Linked DNA regions of Homo sapiens. The protein of the gene in region 1 purifies or fractionates together with the protein of each later gene. This does not show direct contact. Each region holds a gene or a part of one and is shown in the gene's direction. Other genes may lie near its edges.

The links.
Region 2: the proteins of CENPF (region 1) and NUP107 purify together in Homo sapiens (affinity purification with western blotting; one study listed by BioGRID and IntAct). This does not show direct contact.

What each region holds. Positions count from the first base shown.
Region 1 is NC_000001.11:214,641,174-214,644,995, forward strand, and holds part of CENPF (centromere protein F), read left to right. Parts: coding exon 1-2,151; intron 2,152-3,383; coding exon 3,384-3,822. UniProt on the Homo sapiens protein: Required for kinetochore function and chromosome segregation in mitosis. Required for kinetochore localization of dynein, LIS1, NDE1 and NDEL1.
Region 2 is NC_000012.12:68,689,846-68,693,667, forward strand, and holds part of NUP107 (nuclear pore complex protein Nup107), read left to right. Parts: intron 1-757; coding exon of another isoform or gene 758-785; coding exon 786-901; intron 902-2,122; coding exon 2,123-2,267; intron 2,268-3,822. UniProt on the Homo sapiens protein: Plays a role in the nuclear pore complex (NPC) assembly and/or maintenance. Required for the assembly of peripheral proteins into the NPC. May anchor NUP62 to the NPC. Involved in nephrogenesis.

The sequences.
Region 1 (3,822 bases):
CTTTTATCCGAAACCCTAAGCTTGGAGAAGAAAGAAATGAGTTCCATCATTTCTCTAAATAAAAGGGAAATTGAAGAGCTGACCCAAGAGAATGGGACTCTTAAGGAAATTAATGCATCCTTAAATCAAGAGAAGATGAACTTAATCCAGAAAAGTGAGAGTTTTGCAAACTATATAGATGAAAGGGAGAAAAGCATTTCAGAGTTATCTGATCAGTACAAGCAAGAAAAACTTATTTTACTACAAAGATGTGAAGAAACCGGAAATGCATATGAGGATCTTAGTCAAAAATACAAAGCAGCACAGGAAAAGAATTCTAAATTAGAATGCTTGCTAAATGAATGCACTAGTCTTTGTGAAAATAGGAAAAATGAGTTGGAACAGCTAAAGGAAGCATTTGCAAAGGAACACCAAGAATTCTTAACAAAATTAGCATTTGCTGAAGAAAGAAATCAGAATCTGATGCTAGAGTTGGAGACAGTGCAGCAAGCTCTGAGATCTGAGATGACAGATAACCAAAACAATTCTAAGAGCGAGGCTGGTGGTTTAAAGCAAGAAATCATGACTTTAAAGGAAGAACAAAACAAAATGCAAAAGGAAGTTAATGACTTATTACAAGAGAATGAACAGCTGATGAAGGTAATGAAGACTAAACATGAATGTCAAAATCTAGAATCAGAACCAATTAGGAACTCTGTGAAAGAAAGAGAGAGTGAGAGAAATCAATGTAATTTTAAACCTCAGATGGATCTTGAAGTTAAAGAAATTTCTCTAGATAGTTATAATGCGCAGTTGGTGCAATTAGAAGCTATGCTAAGAAATAAGGAATTAAAACTTCAGGAAAGTGAGAAGGAGAAGGAGTGCCTGCAGCATGAATTACAGACAATTAGAGGAGATCTTGAAACCAGCAATTTGCAAGACATGCAGTCACAAGAAATTAGTGGCCTTAAAGACTGTGAAATAGATGCGGAAGAAAAGTATATTTCAGGGCCTCATGAGTTGTCAACAAGTCAAAACGACAATGCACACCTTCAGTGCTCTCTGCAAACAACAATGAACAAGCTGAATGAGCTAGAGAAAATATGTGAAATACTGCAGGCTGAAAAGTATGAACTCGTAACTGAGCTGAATGATTCAAGGTCAGAATGTATCACAGCAACTAGGAAAATGGCAGAAGAGGTAGGGAAACTACTAAATGAAGTTAAAATATTAAATGATGACAGTGGTCTTCTCCATGGTGAGTTAGTGGAAGACATACCAGGAGGTGAATTTGGTGAACAACCAAATGAACAGCACCCTGTGTCTTTGGCTCCATTGGACGAGAGTAATTCCTACGAGCACTTGACATTGTCAGACAAAGAAGTTCAAATGCACTTTGCCGAATTGCAAGAGAAATTCTTATCTTTACAAAGTGAACACAAAATTTTACATGATCAGCACTGTCAGATGAGCTCTAAAATGTCAGAGCTGCAGACCTATGTTGACTCATTAAAGGCCGAAAATTTGGTCTTGTCAACGAATCTGAGAAACTTTCAAGGTGACTTGGTGAAGGAGATGCAGCTGGGCTTGGAGGAGGGGCTCGTTCCATCCCTGTCATCCTCTTGTGTGCCTGACAGCTCTAGTCTTAGCAGTTTGGGAGACTCCTCCTTTTACAGAGCTCTTTTAGAACAGACAGGAGATATGTCTCTTTTGAGTAATTTAGAAGGGGCTGTTTCAGCAAACCAGTGCAGTGTAGATGAAGTATTTTGCAGCAGTCTGCAGGAGGAGAATCTGACCAGGAAAGAAACCCCTTCGGCCCCAGCGAAGGGTGTTGAAGAGCTTGAGTCCCTCTGTGAGGTGTACCGGCAGTCCCTCGAGAAGCTAGAAGAGAAAATGGAAAGTCAAGGGATTATGAAAAATAAGGAAATTCAAGAGCTCGAGCAGTTATTAAGTTCTGAAAGGCAAGAGCTTGACTGCCTTAGGAAGCAGTATTTGTCAGAAAATGAACAGTGGCAACAGAAGCTGACAAGCGTGACTCTGGAGATGGAGTCCAAGTTGGCGGCAGAAAAGAAACAGACGGAACAACTGTCACTTGAGCTGGAAGTAGCACGACTCCAGCTACAAGGTCTGGACTTAAGTTCTCGGTCTTTGCTTGGCATCGACACAGAAGATGTAAGTACCTGGGATTTAAATGCCATTTCTCGGTTTACATGACTAGTGGACACTCAGTAAATGTTTGTCTAATTGAAATGTACATTAAACCTAAGTTAAAATATTTTTAGGGTTCAAGGAAATAAAATACACCAAAATATTTTCAAAACAAACCAGAACTTGAGGAAAATGAGTAAACGTTATTTGAGGAATAAATTTCTATAGGGATTAGATTTACATAGCATTATATAGAATATTACTAAAGATGTTTTTAAAGTCTGGAGAAAATTATATTATGGAGTCAGAAAGTCTTTAGAATGTGTGTTTCCACCCTTTGTGCATTAATAAAGTATACTGAAATAATTAAGAACTTACAAATGGTAATATGTAAATTTTTAATCTCTCCCACTTTTCAGACTATTTTTGATGTTATGGCATTATCGTCATGAAACTAAATACAGCAGATTCTTTATGTATTACTAAACAGTTTTCTCTCTAACAATTTACTGTGGTACAAAAATATGATTTGGTATAAGTCATTTAAAAGGGCTTTTAAAAAATTGAATACATATTTGTTTAATTGCTTGTAACTTTGTCCTTTCTAGCCTGCTAGCTTAATTAATAATGCTATATAGTGTATGCATGTCACTTGATTTCCTCTGTCTATCTCTGTGAGGTAGAGAAGGCAGGTCATGGTGAGGTGATGGCAGGTGTAGGTGCAACAGCAGATCCCCAGTTTACAGATGAGAGGAAAGTGAGGCTCAAATATGTAATTTATCCAATAATGTACAGTAAGTGCTGGATTGGGGATTAAGTCCTTGGACTGGGAATCTGGTTATGAAACTTTACTGCCTTATTAAAGAGTATCATAAATGCTGAAGGTGGAAGCTGAGCATTTTGTTAGCCTCTTATTTAATAATTACAAAGAGATTTCATATTTAGGCTACCTGAATATTCTTAGCAAGGGAAAAATATGAAATTTAAATACATTACAAATTGTAATTGAGCCGAAGGGTTTGTCTTCAAGATAAATGCCTAACCCCAGTGTCTTGCCCATAGGGGCCACTTACTGAACGTATAAGTATGTTGAACATTTGAATGAAGAGAGAAAGATGTAGTGGGAAATTCACCACTTTAAGAGATGTGTTTAGCAGAGGCCACGCATCAGTTTCTAAAAAGTAATAACTAAATCTATTCTATTTTGATTCTTTTTGAAAAATAAAATGCATGCTTGTTATGTATTATAATTACAGGCTATTCAAGGCCGAAATGAGAGCTGTGACATATCAAAAGAACATACTTCAGAAACTACAGAAAGAACACCAAAGCATGATGTTCATCAGATTTGTGATAAAGATGCTCAGCAGGACCTCAATCTAGACATTGAGAAAATAACTGAGACTGGTGCAGTGAAACCCACAGGAGAGTGCTCTGGGGAACAGTCCCCAGATACCAATTATGAGCCTCCAGGGGAAGATAAAACCCAGGGCTCTTCAGAATGCATTTCTGAATTGTCATTTTCTGGTCCTAATGCTTTGGTACCTATGGATTTCCTGGGGAATCAGGAAGATATCCATAATCTTCAACTGCGGGTAAAAGAGACATCAAATGAGAATTTGAGATTACTTCATGTGATAGAGGACCGTGACAGAAAAGTTGAAAGTTTGCTAAATGAAATGAAAGAATTAGACT
Region 2 (3,822 bases), on another chromosome or scaffold:
CTGAAAGTGAGACTTAGAGAAGTTAACTAATATATACAATAAGTATGTAAATAGGCTGGATGCAGTGGCCCATGCCTATAATCTCAACACTTTGGGAGGCCAAGGTGGGTGGATCACTTAAGGCCAGGAGTTCAAGACTAGCTTGGCCAACATGGCAAAACCCTATCTCTACTAAAAATACAAAAATTAGCTGGCGTGGTGGCACATGCCTGTAATCCCAGCTACTCCGGAGGGTGAGGCAGGAGAATTGCTTGAACCCGGAAGGCAGAGGTTGCAGTGAGCTGAGATTGTGCCACTGTACTCCAGCTGGGGCGACAGAGCAAAAAAAAAAAAAATCCCAGTTCCATTATTTACATACTCTTTTTTTGTTCTGAGACAGAAAAAAAAGAGTATGTAAATAATGGAACTGGGATTCAAACAATGATCTGTTTACTCCAAAGTTTATGCCCACTACACTGCACTGCCTCAGTATGCCTTATAAAATTAAAATATGAAGAATCCGTTGACTGATTAGTGTCTTTAACTGCTCAGTTATTCTATAATGAAAGCATCTGTAATTGCAGTAAAATGTTTCCTGTTAGGCTCAGTAGTACCTACAGCTCAAATTTAGAAAAATAAGTTAAATCCTTGTATCATGGAAATGTTAACATTTAAAGTATTTATTTGGTTAGAGTCTAAATAATGGAAAACTGAAAAATTTATTCTTCATTGTTTGTTTGCTTACTTTGTTTTGATAATGAATGCTCACGCACTTTAGGTTCTTTCTACCAACCTTTTGTTTATAGTTACCCCAACAAGCCGAAGCTTACTAAGGCAGCCAGATATTTCCTGCATTCTTGGAACAGGAGGGAAGTCGCCCCGACTTACGCAGTCTTCAGGGTTCTTTGGAAATCTCTCCATGGTATGTAGAAAAATAGGGCTAAGAACTCCTTTTGGGTCGAGTGTGGTGGCTCACATCTGTAATCTCAGCACTCCCTGAACTCCTGACCTCAAGTGATTCTCCCGCCTTGGCCTCCCAGAAGTCAGGAGTTTGAGACTAGCCTGCTTAGCATGATAAAACCCTGTCTCTACTAACAATAAAAAAATTAGCTGGGAGTGGTGGCTTATGCCTGTAATCCTAGCTGCTCGGGAGGCTGAGGTGTGAGAATTGCTTGAACCCAGGAGGCAGAGGTTGCAGTGACCTGTGATTGCAAAAGAAAAAAAAAAGAGAAAAAAGAACTTCTCCCTTTTTATAAAAATATGATATTTGATGTAAAAGTCTTTTAACAAATATTGAGTCAGAATCATCATAACAGTAACTTTAGGTTATATGGATTGAAATAATTAGACAGTAAAAAAACTGAAAACCTTATGCATCTGATATCACAGATGGAAACTGTGACACCAGCAACCTTTAGATGAAAATAAGATGTTTTAATCTGTCAGTTTGCTGACCAGAAGAAGTACATGCTGTGGTTGGTTGCTGATGGCTATAAAATCTGATCCCTGTTTTGAAGCATACAAGAGTAGGAATCAGAGGTTAACAGATGAAGAATATCTTAAGGAAGAGATAAAATGTATTAAAGGGGATAAAAGAGAAAATTGGAAAAAGTAGGTGAGATACTCTTTAGGAATCACTATGGAACAGTATTAAAAATAGCAAAAGAAATGTTATGTAAGCTGTGATGCAGAATGACTTCACCTAAGTATTAAAAATACACTATAGTAGCCGGGCATGGTGGCTCACATCTGTAATCCCAGCATTTTGGGAGGCTGAGGCAGGTGGATCACATGAGGCCAGGAATTTGAGACCAGCCTGGCCAACATGGTGAAACCCCATACCTACCAAAAATACAAAAATTAGCCAGGCGTGGTGGCACGTGCCTGTAGTCCCAGCTACTTGGGAGGCTGAAGTGGGAAGATGGCTTGAGCCTGAGAGGCAAAGGTTGCGTTGAGCCATGATCGTGCCACTGAACTCCAGCCTGGGCAACAGATCCAGACCTTATCTCAAGAAGGGAAAAAAAAAAAAAAAGACGCATACATACATATAATTTTTAGAAACCTTATTTGTTTTTAAAGTATCCACTCAGTGACAATAACTCCATCACTTTTCTGTATTTTTACTTTTTTGTTTTTTTTTAAGGTTACTAATCTGGATGACAGTAACTGGGCAGCTGCATTTTCATCACAGCGTTCCGGGCTGTTCACAAACACAGAGCCCCACAGTATAACAGAAGATGTAACTATCAGTGCTGTTATGTTACGTGAGGATGATCCTGGAGAAGCTGGTAAAATGGCATTGAGCTTTGTGACAAGTAGCTTTTCACTTTAGCAAGATGAAGGAAACCATTTCTTCCTGTTTCTGAACGTCATTATGTTTTTCTTTTCTTTCTTTCTGTCTTTTTTTCTTGAGAGAGTAGCTTAAACAACAGATTTTTGTGTGTGTGTTTTTTGAGACAAGAGTCTCACTCTGTTGCCGGGCGCGGTGGCTCATGCCTATAATCCTAGCACTTTGAGAGGCCGAGGCGGGCAGATCACGAGGTCAGGAGTTCAAGACCAGCCTGGCCAACATGGTGAAACCTCGTCTCTACTAAAAATACAAAAATTAGTTGGGTATGGTGGTGCACACCTGTAATCCCAGCTACTTGAGAGGCTGAGGCAGGAGAATCGCTTGAACCCGGGAGGCAGAGTTTGCAGTGAGCTGAGATCGCACCATTGCACTCCAGCCTGGGCTACAGAGCAAGACTCCGTCTAAAAAAAAAAAACAAAAAAAAAAACAGTCACTCTGTCACCCAGGCTAAATGCAGAAATGCAGTGGCACAATCATGGCTCACTGCAGCCTTAACCTCCCAGGCTTAAGCAATTCTGCAGCCTCAGCCTCCTGAATAGTTGGGACTGCAGGCATGTACCACCATGCCTAGCTAATTTTTTTTTTTTTTTTTTGAGATGGAGTCTCGCTCTGTCACCCAGACTGGAGTGGAGTGATGGGATCTTGGTTCACTGCAACCTCCGCCTCCCAGGTTTAAATGATTCTCCTGCCTCAGTCTCCAGAGTAGCTGGGATTATAGGCGTCTGCTACCACACCCGGCTAATTTTTGTATTTTTAGTAGAAACGGGGTTTTGCCATGTTGGCCAGGCTTGTCTCAAACTCCTGACCATGGGTGATCCACCCGCCTTGGCCTCCCAAAGTGCTGGGATTACAGGTGTGAGCCACTGCGCCTGGCCGCCAGCTAATTTTTTATTTATTTATTTATTTATTTATTTTTTTTTTTAGACGGAGTCTCACTCTGTTGCCCAGACTGGAGTGCAGTGGTGCAATCTCGGCTCACTGCAACCTCTACCTGCTGTATTCAAGTGATTCTCCTGCCTCAGTCTCCTGAGTAGCTGAGATTACAGGTGCCCACCACCACGCCTGGCTAATTTTTGTATTTTTAGTAGAGAGAGGTTTCACCATTTTGGCCAGGCTGATCTCGAACTCCTGACCTCAAGTGATCCGTCCTCCTCAGCCTCCCAAAGTCCTGAGATTACAGGCGTAAGCCACTGTGCCCAGCCTAATTTTTTATTTCTTTATAGAGACAGGGTCTACAAAGACCAGCCCAGGCTGGTCTCAAACTCCTGGACACAAGTGATCCTACCGCCTCAGCCTCTCAAAGTGCTGGGATTATAGGCAACAACATAAATTTATTTTCTCACAATTCTGGAGCCTAGATGTCTGAGTTAAAGGTCTTGGCAGGGTTGGTTTTCTCTGAAGCCTCTTCTCTTGGCTTACAGATGGCTGTCTTCCTCCTGTGTCTTCATCTGGTCTTCTGTCTATAATATATTTTTCCTTAAGCTAATTAGTTG